Linked DNA regions of Homo sapiens: region 1 is linked to region 2. Evidence: fine-mapped expression QTL. A gene starts in region 2. The other region holds a variant in brackets. All regions are shown on one strand. Distances are between the middles of the regions. Region 1 overlaps MAPK8IP2 (mitogen-activated protein kinase 8 interacting protein 2). Region 2 holds the start of NCAPH2 (non-SMC condensin II complex subunit H2).

The links.
Region 1: its variant is fine-mapped to the expression of NCAPH2 in whole blood (TOPMed, PIP 0.97).

What each region holds. Positions count from the first base shown.
Region 1 is chr22:50,606,780-50,611,157 of GRCh38, reverse strand. MAPK8IP2 (mitogen-activated protein kinase 8 interacting protein 2) reads right to left here. Exons shown (of 12, transcript NM_012324.6): 10 at 4,167-4,237; 11 at 848-946; 12 at 1-451. The coding sequence ends at 379. Among named protein-coding and RNA genes, the nearest start is that of MAPK8IP2, 8.2 kb to the right of the region's middle. RefSeq lists an enhancer at 1,147-1,931. The variant G/A (reference allele first, on the strand shown) is at 1,797.
Region 2 is chr22:50,506,424-50,510,801 of GRCh38, reverse strand. NCAPH2 (non-SMC condensin II complex subunit H2) reads right to left here and starts at 2,578. Exons shown (of 20, transcript NM_152299.4): 1 at 2,357-2,578. The coding sequence starts at 2,464. It overlaps LMF2 (lipase maturation factor 2), which reads left to right and starts at 3,100. Exons shown (of 14, transcript NM_033200.3): 1 at 3,100-3,220; 2 at 3,767-4,020; 3 at 4,136-4,164; 4 at 4,300-4,378. The coding sequence starts at 3,127. RefSeq lists silencers at 2,040-2,329, 3,000-3,099 and an enhancer at 3,320-3,369.

The DNA of each region.
Region 1 (4,378 bases), 100 kb before region 2:
GTCCCTAGAGCCGCACCTCCTCCACACCCCCGAAGTTCTGACCCCAAAGTGAAGAATAGAGGATAAGGTTTGCAGGCACAGAGAGGGGCAGAGACACCAGGAGAGAGAAAAGGGAGACTGGGAAGGGAAGGAGGAGGACAACACAGAGAAAGAACGGATCTGAGGAAAAGCAGGGGCACGGGGGCTCCACTCCCCCGCAGCCCCAACAGCTGCGCCCTGGGGACCGAGGACGAGAGTTCCCAGCCCGCAGACCCCCACAAGCGTAAGGTCCCATGTCCCCCCAATCCAGTCCTTGCCAAAGCCATGGTGGCCTCTTGAGACATCCTCAGCCCCAGCTGCGCCTGGAGCAGACGGCCAGGAGACAGAGCGGTGGGCAGGCTACTCCAGGTAGATGTCCTCCGTGGGGCAGGCGTACGCCAGGTGCTCTTGGTAGTACTCCAGGAAGGCGCGGCTGGGGAAAGACGGTCCTCCACCAGCCACTCAGGGCCGGTCCTCAACCCCCAAACTGCCTTCCACAGAGCCTCTGAGCTCTCCCTCCTTCCTCCCTCTGCAGCCATCCATAACCCCCCACCCAGGCATGGCCATGTCACCCCCAAGTGTGACCCTCAGCTCTCCTGGCCCAGCAATTCTACCCCTGCCAGAGTGCCTGGGCCATGTGTCTGTGCCTGTTCCCACCCCATGCCCAGCACCCCAAACTGTCACCCACCACTGCCCTCTCTACACAGCACATCTGGTTCTCCTTCCCCAGACCTCCCCTGCCAGGCTCCTGCCCCCACCTGCTCACCTCCGCTCCCCACCTCCGTAACCCTGCACCCATTCTGCACCCACACCCTGGGGCCCCACTCACCCCACACTCTGCGCCACCGGCCTCATGGACTCCTGGGAGACAAAGACGTGGCAGGCGAAGCGGCTCAGCAGGGGGTGTTTGGTGATGAAGCCGAAATAGCTGCGGGCAAGTCAGTGTGGAGGGCACGTCAGAGCCCTGGCCCAGCCTTGGCCACCCCACAAATGATGTAGAGAGAAGAGGCAGGAACAAAGGGCTTGGGGAGAGGGTAAGGGACAGGAGTGTGGGGGTCGCACAATTTCAAGATCTGAAGTTGTCTTTTTTTGGTTTCAGCCCAAGCACAGGGCTGGGCACCTACCAAGAGTTCACGCTCTGAGTTAATTCCATGATGACCAGGGGCGTCCACTCTCCCTTCTCTGAGCCGGTGCTGCTACCCTCTGTGGCCCTATTCAGGGCCTGCCCCAGGACCACAGAGCAAGGCCTCTGCCTGGCTACTGGAGACCATATCTCCTGCCAACTCAGGCCTCCTCCTGCGGGCCTAGCAGACTGACAGCCCCTTGCCCAGCTCCGAGGTGGGGCTGGACGTTACCCCTGGTCTGTAAAACCCTCTTCCGGTCTACCCCTCGCTCCCACTGGAAAGCAGCTCCTTGCGGGGCCTCGCTCATGGAGTCACTGCCCAGCTCCTCCACCCAGACATTAGCAAAAATCAAAAATCGTCGTCCAGAGGGAGAGGCAGGCAGAGTTCTGCAGCAGGACGCTGCCCCACCCCCACCCCTGAAACTGGCCGACCCGTCCATTCCCCCATGGCTTCGGGGCTTTGCGATTCCACCAAATGGGAAGCCACATGATGGTCTGCTTGCCAGGACAGTGTGTGCACGCTGTCCACAGACAGAGCACAGGGCCCGCCTCAAATGCCGCGTTCAAGTCATGATGGTAATAAGCGCCGACCCACAGATCTGGCTTCCTGCATTACTCAGGCACCATCCTCTGCCCTTTCCATTAACTCACAGAA[G/A]CCTCACAACAGCCCTCTGAGGTAGGGCCCTGATGGAGAGCTAGGCACAGAGGTTCAGGAGCTTGCCCAGGACACACAGGCAGGATGGGCAGCCCTGGGAGAAAAGGCTACAGTCTGTGATCCCAACACCAGACATCCTAATGCCAGATCCCAACACAGCACACCCCACGCTCTCCTGACCTACCACCACCGCCATGAAGAAACGAGTTCATCGTTCACCTCACACGGTTTCGTCCGTGCCTCCTCGTGGCAAGGGACCGGGGACGGGGGGTCTGGGGTGACAAATATTAGGAAGGTCTGGGCCAGGGCAGCAGCTCCTCCACCTCCTCCCACACCCCTGCCACATCTTGACTCCAAACCCCAAACTCGACTGACCACCTTCCTCTCACGAAATTCTAGCTGGGGCCCTGTCCAGCCTGAGACCTGAGCTTCACCCAGTTTCCTTCTGATGAGAAATTTGGGTCATTCTTCCTCTCCTGGCAGCGTCCGCTGTCCCAGTGACCCCAGAGCTGTCCCCACTGTCTGGTCTGCGCCCCGTCCGCTGTCCCAGTGACCCCAGAGCTGGCCCCACCGTCTGGTCTGCGCCCCGTCCGCTGTCCCGGTGACCCCAGAGCTGGCCCCACTGTCTGGTCTGCGCCCGTGCCCACTGTCCCACCTCTCCACCCCAGAGCTGTCCCTGCTGTCTGGTCTGCGCCCCTGCCCGCTGTCCCACCTCTCCACCCCAGAGCTGTCCCTGCTGTCTGGTCTGCGCCCCGTTCGCTGTCCCGGTGACCCCAGAGCTGGCCCCACTGTCTGGTCTGCGCCCCTGCCCACTGTCCCACCTCTCCACCCCAGAGCTGGCCCCGCTGTCTGGTCTGCGCCCCTGCCCGCTGTCCCACCTCTCCACCCCAGAGCTGTCCCTGCTGTCTGGTCTGCGCCCCGTTCGCTGTCCTGGTGACCCCAGAGCTGGCCCCACTGTCTGGTCTGCGCCCCTGCCCACTGTCCCACCTTTCCACCCCAGAGCTGGCCCCGCTGTCTGGTCTGCGCCCCTGCCCGCTGTCCCACCTCTCCACCCCAGAGCTGGCCCCGCAGTCTGGTCTGCATCGCTGCCCGCTGTCCCACCTCTCCACCCCACTGAGCAGCGTTTCCGCATGGATCCCATCAGACCATCTCTGCACTCGGCGGGGACAACACAAAAGGGCTCCGCACCTTCCAGCAGGCAGCACCCTCACTCTCGACCACAGGGAGAGTCCACAAGGCCCCCAAGATGCACTGACGTCTGTCCCACGCCTCAGTCCTGGCAGCACCGTGCCCTGCTGTGTCTTGCCTGTCTGTGAGCCTGCTTCCTCCAACTCCCCGCAAGTCCTTTCCAGCCTCTGGCTGGCTCTGCCTCTCTGGTTCCTCCCAGATCTCCTTCCTCTAGGGTGCTGGGACACAGAGGGCAGGGGCCTGTGCCTGGAGGGAAGCTGGCAGCCCCCCTTGGCCTGCTGCTCCTATGCCAGCACCTCCTCCTCCCCTCCTCCCCTCACCCTGCCTGGCCATTCCCCTCTCGTCTCAGTGATCTACCTGCTCTGACCTGGTATCTTCCCTCCAGGTCTCCCTCCTAAACTCCAGACCCATGGGACCAACGGCCACTTCAGTCTCACCGTTTGTGATTGATCCCGCATCCCCTCTCGGTGTGTGGGCTGCAGTACAACCATCCCCCAGGGAGACGTCACCCTGGTCTCTTCCAGGTCACCCTCTACAGCCGGTCAACCTAGGTCCTGCCTGTACTGCCTCTTCAGTGCCTCTTGCATCTGCACACTTGGTCTCAGGACATAGCACCTGTATAACCTCAGCAGCCCCCAGGTCCCCTGTGTCACCTCCTTCCATTAGGAGCCTTCTATGGCCTCATTACCAGCAAGATTAAGTACAGCTCCTTGGCATAATCAAAAGGGTCCAGGTCTTCCCCGGCATTTCTAGCTGCTCCCCTTACACGCGGGCCCCAGAGCCTATATAGCCCCCGACCAGTGCATCCCACACCCTTGGCTCAGCTAGACCCCACCAGGAAGATCCACTTCCCCACCGCTGTCACCTGCTGTGTTTCCAGGCTGGCCATCCTGAGCCCCAGGCCCACTCAGGCGTCCTCTGCACCCACACAGGCTTCTCACATCCTTCGCCCGTGTGCCTCTCTCCACCCAGACTGGATGCAAGCCTGTCTGACCCACGCCTCCTGAGTCCAGCTCAGAGCAGGCGCCACTGCAGGCTCAGCTCACAGAGCTAAGTGGGTGCAGGTGGAGCTCTCAGGGCTGGGCACGGGCAGCCCTCAGGGTCTGTGGGGACTCAGGGGGCGGTTGGACTCTCAGGGTTTGTGGGGGCGGTTGGGGGACTCGGGGACGGTCAGACTCTCACCAGCTGTTGCGGGGATGGCAGCCGCAGAAGGAGATGTTCTTCATCTGGAAGAAATGGCTGCAGCGCTGGAACTAGAGCAGAGGTGGGCAGAAGTCCCTGTGTCAAAGGAGGCCTGGCGCCACCCCTGCCTCCCACCTACTGGACACCCCTGCCAGCCTGGCCCCGTCGGACTCCGTGGCCTAACCCTATCCCCCAGTCCCCGGTCCCCAGTC
Region 2 (4,378 bases):
GAGAGGACTATTTTAGATAGGGTGGTCAGCTGACATTTACACTAAGACCTTAAGAATGAAAAGGACTCAGTCAGCCAGGCGTGGTGGCTCACGTCTGTAATCCCAGCACTTTGGAAAGAGGCAGAGCTGGCTGGATCACCTGAGGTCAGGAGTTTGAGACCAGCCTGGCCAATGTGGCGAAACCCATCTCTACTAAAAATACAAAAATTAACTGGACGTGGTGGTGCATGCCTGTAATCCCAGCTACTCGGGAGGCCAAGGCAGGAGAATTGCTTGAACCTGGGAGTCGGAGGTTGCAGTGAGCCAAGATTCTGCCATTGTACTCCAGCCCGGGCAACAGAGCAAGACTCCATCTCAAAAAAAGAAAAGAAAACAAACTCAGTCATTGAAAGAATATTCCCAGCCAGGTGTGGTGGTGCACAGCTATAGTCCCAGCTACCTGAGAAGCTGAGGCAGGAGGACTGCTTGAGCACAGCAGTTTGAGACCAGCCTGGGCAACACAGTAAGATCCTCCTCTCTGATTTTTTTTTTCTCCTTTTCCTTGCCATATGAAGTCCCTCTTTATTTAAAAACAAAAAAGAGGCCGGGCGCGGTGGCTCACGCCTGTAATCCCAGCACTTTGGGAGGCCAAGGCAGGCGGATCACGAGGTCAGGAGATCGAGACCATCCTGGCTAACACGGTGAAACCCTGTCTCTACTAAAATACAAAAAAATTAGTTGGGCGTGGAGGCGGGCGCCTGTAGTCCCAGCTACTGCAGAGGCTGAGGCAGAATGATGTGAACCCAGGAGGCGGAGCTTGCAGTGAGCTCAGATCGCGCCACTGCACTTCCGTCTCAGAGTGAGACTCCGTCTCAAAATATATAAATAAATAAATAAAAACAAAAAAGAAGATTCCCAAGTGGGGGCAGAAAGCATGAAGATCTTCCACCAAGAAAAAGCTTGGAGGGGCCATAGGTTGACTGGTTCAAAAGAACAAGATACAAAACAGCCCAAAATGAGGCTAAAATGGAGAGCAGAGCCAGGTTCAGAGAAGGAAATTTGGGTTTTATTCTGGGCATAATGGAAAGCCACTGAGGGGTTGATTTTAGGCAGAAAACAGTGCTGTGGCCAGATTTTAATTTTTAAGAGTCACACTTGCTGCTGGTTGGAGCACGAATTGGACGGGACAAAAACAGGGATAAGGGAACCCAAATAGGAAGGTTTTACACAAATCCAGGCCAGAGACAATGGTGGCCTAGACCAAATAAAATGGACAACAGATGAATTCAAGTGATATTCCGGTGGTATAACTGATGGAATTCATGGATGAACTGAGTGTTAAGCATGGGGCTTCACTATAGCCACATTTAGCTTTTGCTTTTGGTTGAACAGCGGTGTCATTTTCCGAGATGGGAAAAGCTGGGGTTTAAGCAGAAAAATGAAGAGTTCCACTTTAAATATGTTAAATGAGATGTTTGCGTGACACCCACTAGATGTCAAGAGAGCAGCTGGATATGTAAAGTAGATTTGGAGGAAAGATCTAGGATGGAGCTGCAGATCTGGTAGTTGTCCTAATACAGGCAATATTTAAAATCATAGAAATAAATGACACTTCAGGGTAAATGCATCAGAAGATGACCTAGGCCCCATCCTGAGGAACTCAACACTTAGAGACTGGATAGAAAAGAAAAATCAGGCAATGAAATAGGGAAAAAAAATCCTACCACCATGTTTCAAAAAGAAAGGAGTGGCCAGTCCAACAAATGCTGACTTATGTCCCTTGGATTTGGTAGAATGGAGATCACTGCTGATCAAGACAAGAAACATTTAAGTGTCGTGGACGCCAGACTGAGCTGGGCTGAGGAGTAAAAATGAAGCGCAAATATGGAGCAGACAGCTTAACACAGGTCTAGACAGGGCTGTCAAACATGGAAGAAACACTAATCGCTAACAGGATAGAGCATGGCAATAGCTTGAAATTGGTTTGAAAATCCAAGATAAAAAATTCCTCTGACATCGTGATCCAGACCTCTCAAACACACAAGCATGCTCGCAATAACTGCAATAAAAGCAATAATGCTTTCTAGTCTATTCCACTACGTTAGAGAAACGGCTGGTCACCACCCACTCAATCATTCACGGCTCGCTGACGGGTAGAAACCTGCAATGACAGGTCCACGCTAATCCAACAAGGGATGATTTGGGGAGGCAGAGATGGAGTTTGAAAAGAAGCAGGGAGCCCGAGGACCTGCGCGGCCAGAGCGCCAGATAGCCATAGGCGTGGAGACGGTGGGGCGCCCACAGCCCCGGGCCCGGAGCCCCCGCCCCGCAGCCCCACCCGCCGGCCCACCCCGCGTCACTCCCCCGCCGCCCTTACCTCCTCCAGATACTCGCCCAGCTGGGCCGCCACGTCCACCTCCCAGTTCTTGGTGAGGTCGCGGATGGGCTGCAAGAGGTGGGCGAAGCGCGCCTCCACGTCCTCCATGTCCGGGAGGGAACGGGCGGCAAAGGGACCGCAGGGCTGCCTTCCGAGGGGTACGGCGTCCTCAGCCCGCCACTAGTTCTGGCGCCATTTTGCTGTTCCCGCCCAGGAAAATGCGTAGGCGCGGCGTCGCGCGCATGTCTATGACGTAACGTGGGCAAAAGCCAGAGAGGCGAACCCCGGCGCCGCGCAGCGGGAGCTCACCGGAAGAGTCGCGGGGCGGGGTCGAAGCCTCCGGGAGGGGGGGGTGGGCGGAGCTTTGGGCTGCCACCAGTTTGGACGGGAGGGCTTTTGGGGCCGCCGTGGGTCGGGCGGGGCGGGGTGGGGCGGGGCCTGGAGCTGCCGCGGGCGAGCGGGCCGAGGAGGCGGGGCTTGGGGGCTGCCACGGGTTGGGGGGGCGGGGCGGTGAGGAGGCGGGGCCTGGGGCAGCCGCGGGCGGGCGGACGGGCCGAGGAGGCGGGGCTTGGGGCTGCCACGGGTTGGGCGGGCGGGGCGGTGAGGAGGCGGGGCCTGGGACTGCCGCGGGCGGGCGGGCGGGCCGAGGAGGCGGGGCTTGGGGCTGCCACGGATTGGGCGGGCGGGGCGGTGAGGAGGCGGGGCCTGGGGCTGCCGCGGGCGGGCGGACGCGGAGGGCGGGCCCTGCTCTAGCGGGCCGCGTAGCGGACATGGCGGGCTCCCGGCTCCCGCGGCAGCTCTTCCTCCAGGGCGTGGCGGCCGTCTTCATGTTTGCTTTCGCTTCCCTCTACACGCAAATCCCAGGTGAAGGCACCCAGGGTGGGACACCCCCAGCCTCGGCGCGGGACCCTATGTCCTCTTTTCTCTGTGCCCGGCACTCACGCAGTCCGGGGTTGGGAGTGAGGGCCAGGCCTTGGCGTGGGGTAGGGGGCGGCGGTTCGTGTCCTGCAGGCCGCTGTGGGGGTAGGAAGGTGTGCGGTGATCCATTTCCCGTAAGGCTCTGGACTCTGACCTGGGGTGGGGGACAGAACTCTGAGAGAGGTGGGAGAGAGGCTTCCTCCCAGACCTGGTGGGACAGGTAGGAGATCGGGCTGAGACCTGGAAGAGGGCAGTGGGCTCTGCTGGGTGGGAGGCCCTGACTCAGGTAGTTGAGCAGGCCTCTAGCCCTGGGACGGGGTTTTGACAGGTCCCGACCTGGGGGACGGGCTCTGGAGGGACTGCAGACTCTGACCTAGGGATGGAGGTATCCGCATGCTCTGACCTAGGCTGGGGGATCTGCAGGCCCTGACTCAGAGGTAGTCTAGTCTGCAAGGGCTGTCCAGGGCCTGGCCATGACATGCCCTCCCACAGGCCTGTATGGCCCCGAGGGCATCCTACCTGCAAGGAGGACGCTGCGGCCTCAGGGCAAGGGGCGCTGGCAGCAGCTGTGGGAGACCCCGACGCTGCTGTGGGAAGCGCCGAGACTGGGGCTGGACACGGCCCAGGGCCTGGAGCTGCTGAGCCTGCTGGGTGCACTAGTGGCCCTGGGAGCCCTGCTGCTGAGCCCACTGCGCCACCCTGTCATCTACTTGCTGCTTTGGGCCGCCTACCTGTCAGCCTGCCAGGCAAGTGGGACCTGTGACCAGCTCACTCTATCTCCAACCCCCACCACCCACCCCTGCCTCTACCTTACCTGAGTCCACAGACACACCCGCTCCCTGACAGCCCCTCTCTCCGCAGGTGGGCCAGGTGTTCCTTTATTTCCAGTGGTGAGTGACGGCTGGGCCTGGGGCTGTGGGAGGCTGGGTAGGGGGTGGGGGAGGGCTCTGCCCTTCCTGGGAGGACTTTCCGAGGGAAGCAGCTGTGTGGGGAGGGGCTCTTGGTGCTATTTGCTCTCCCCATAGGGACTCCCTGCTGCTAGAGACTGGCTTCCTGGCCGTGCTGGTGGCCCCGCTGAGGCCAGCCTCCCACCGCAAGGAGGCC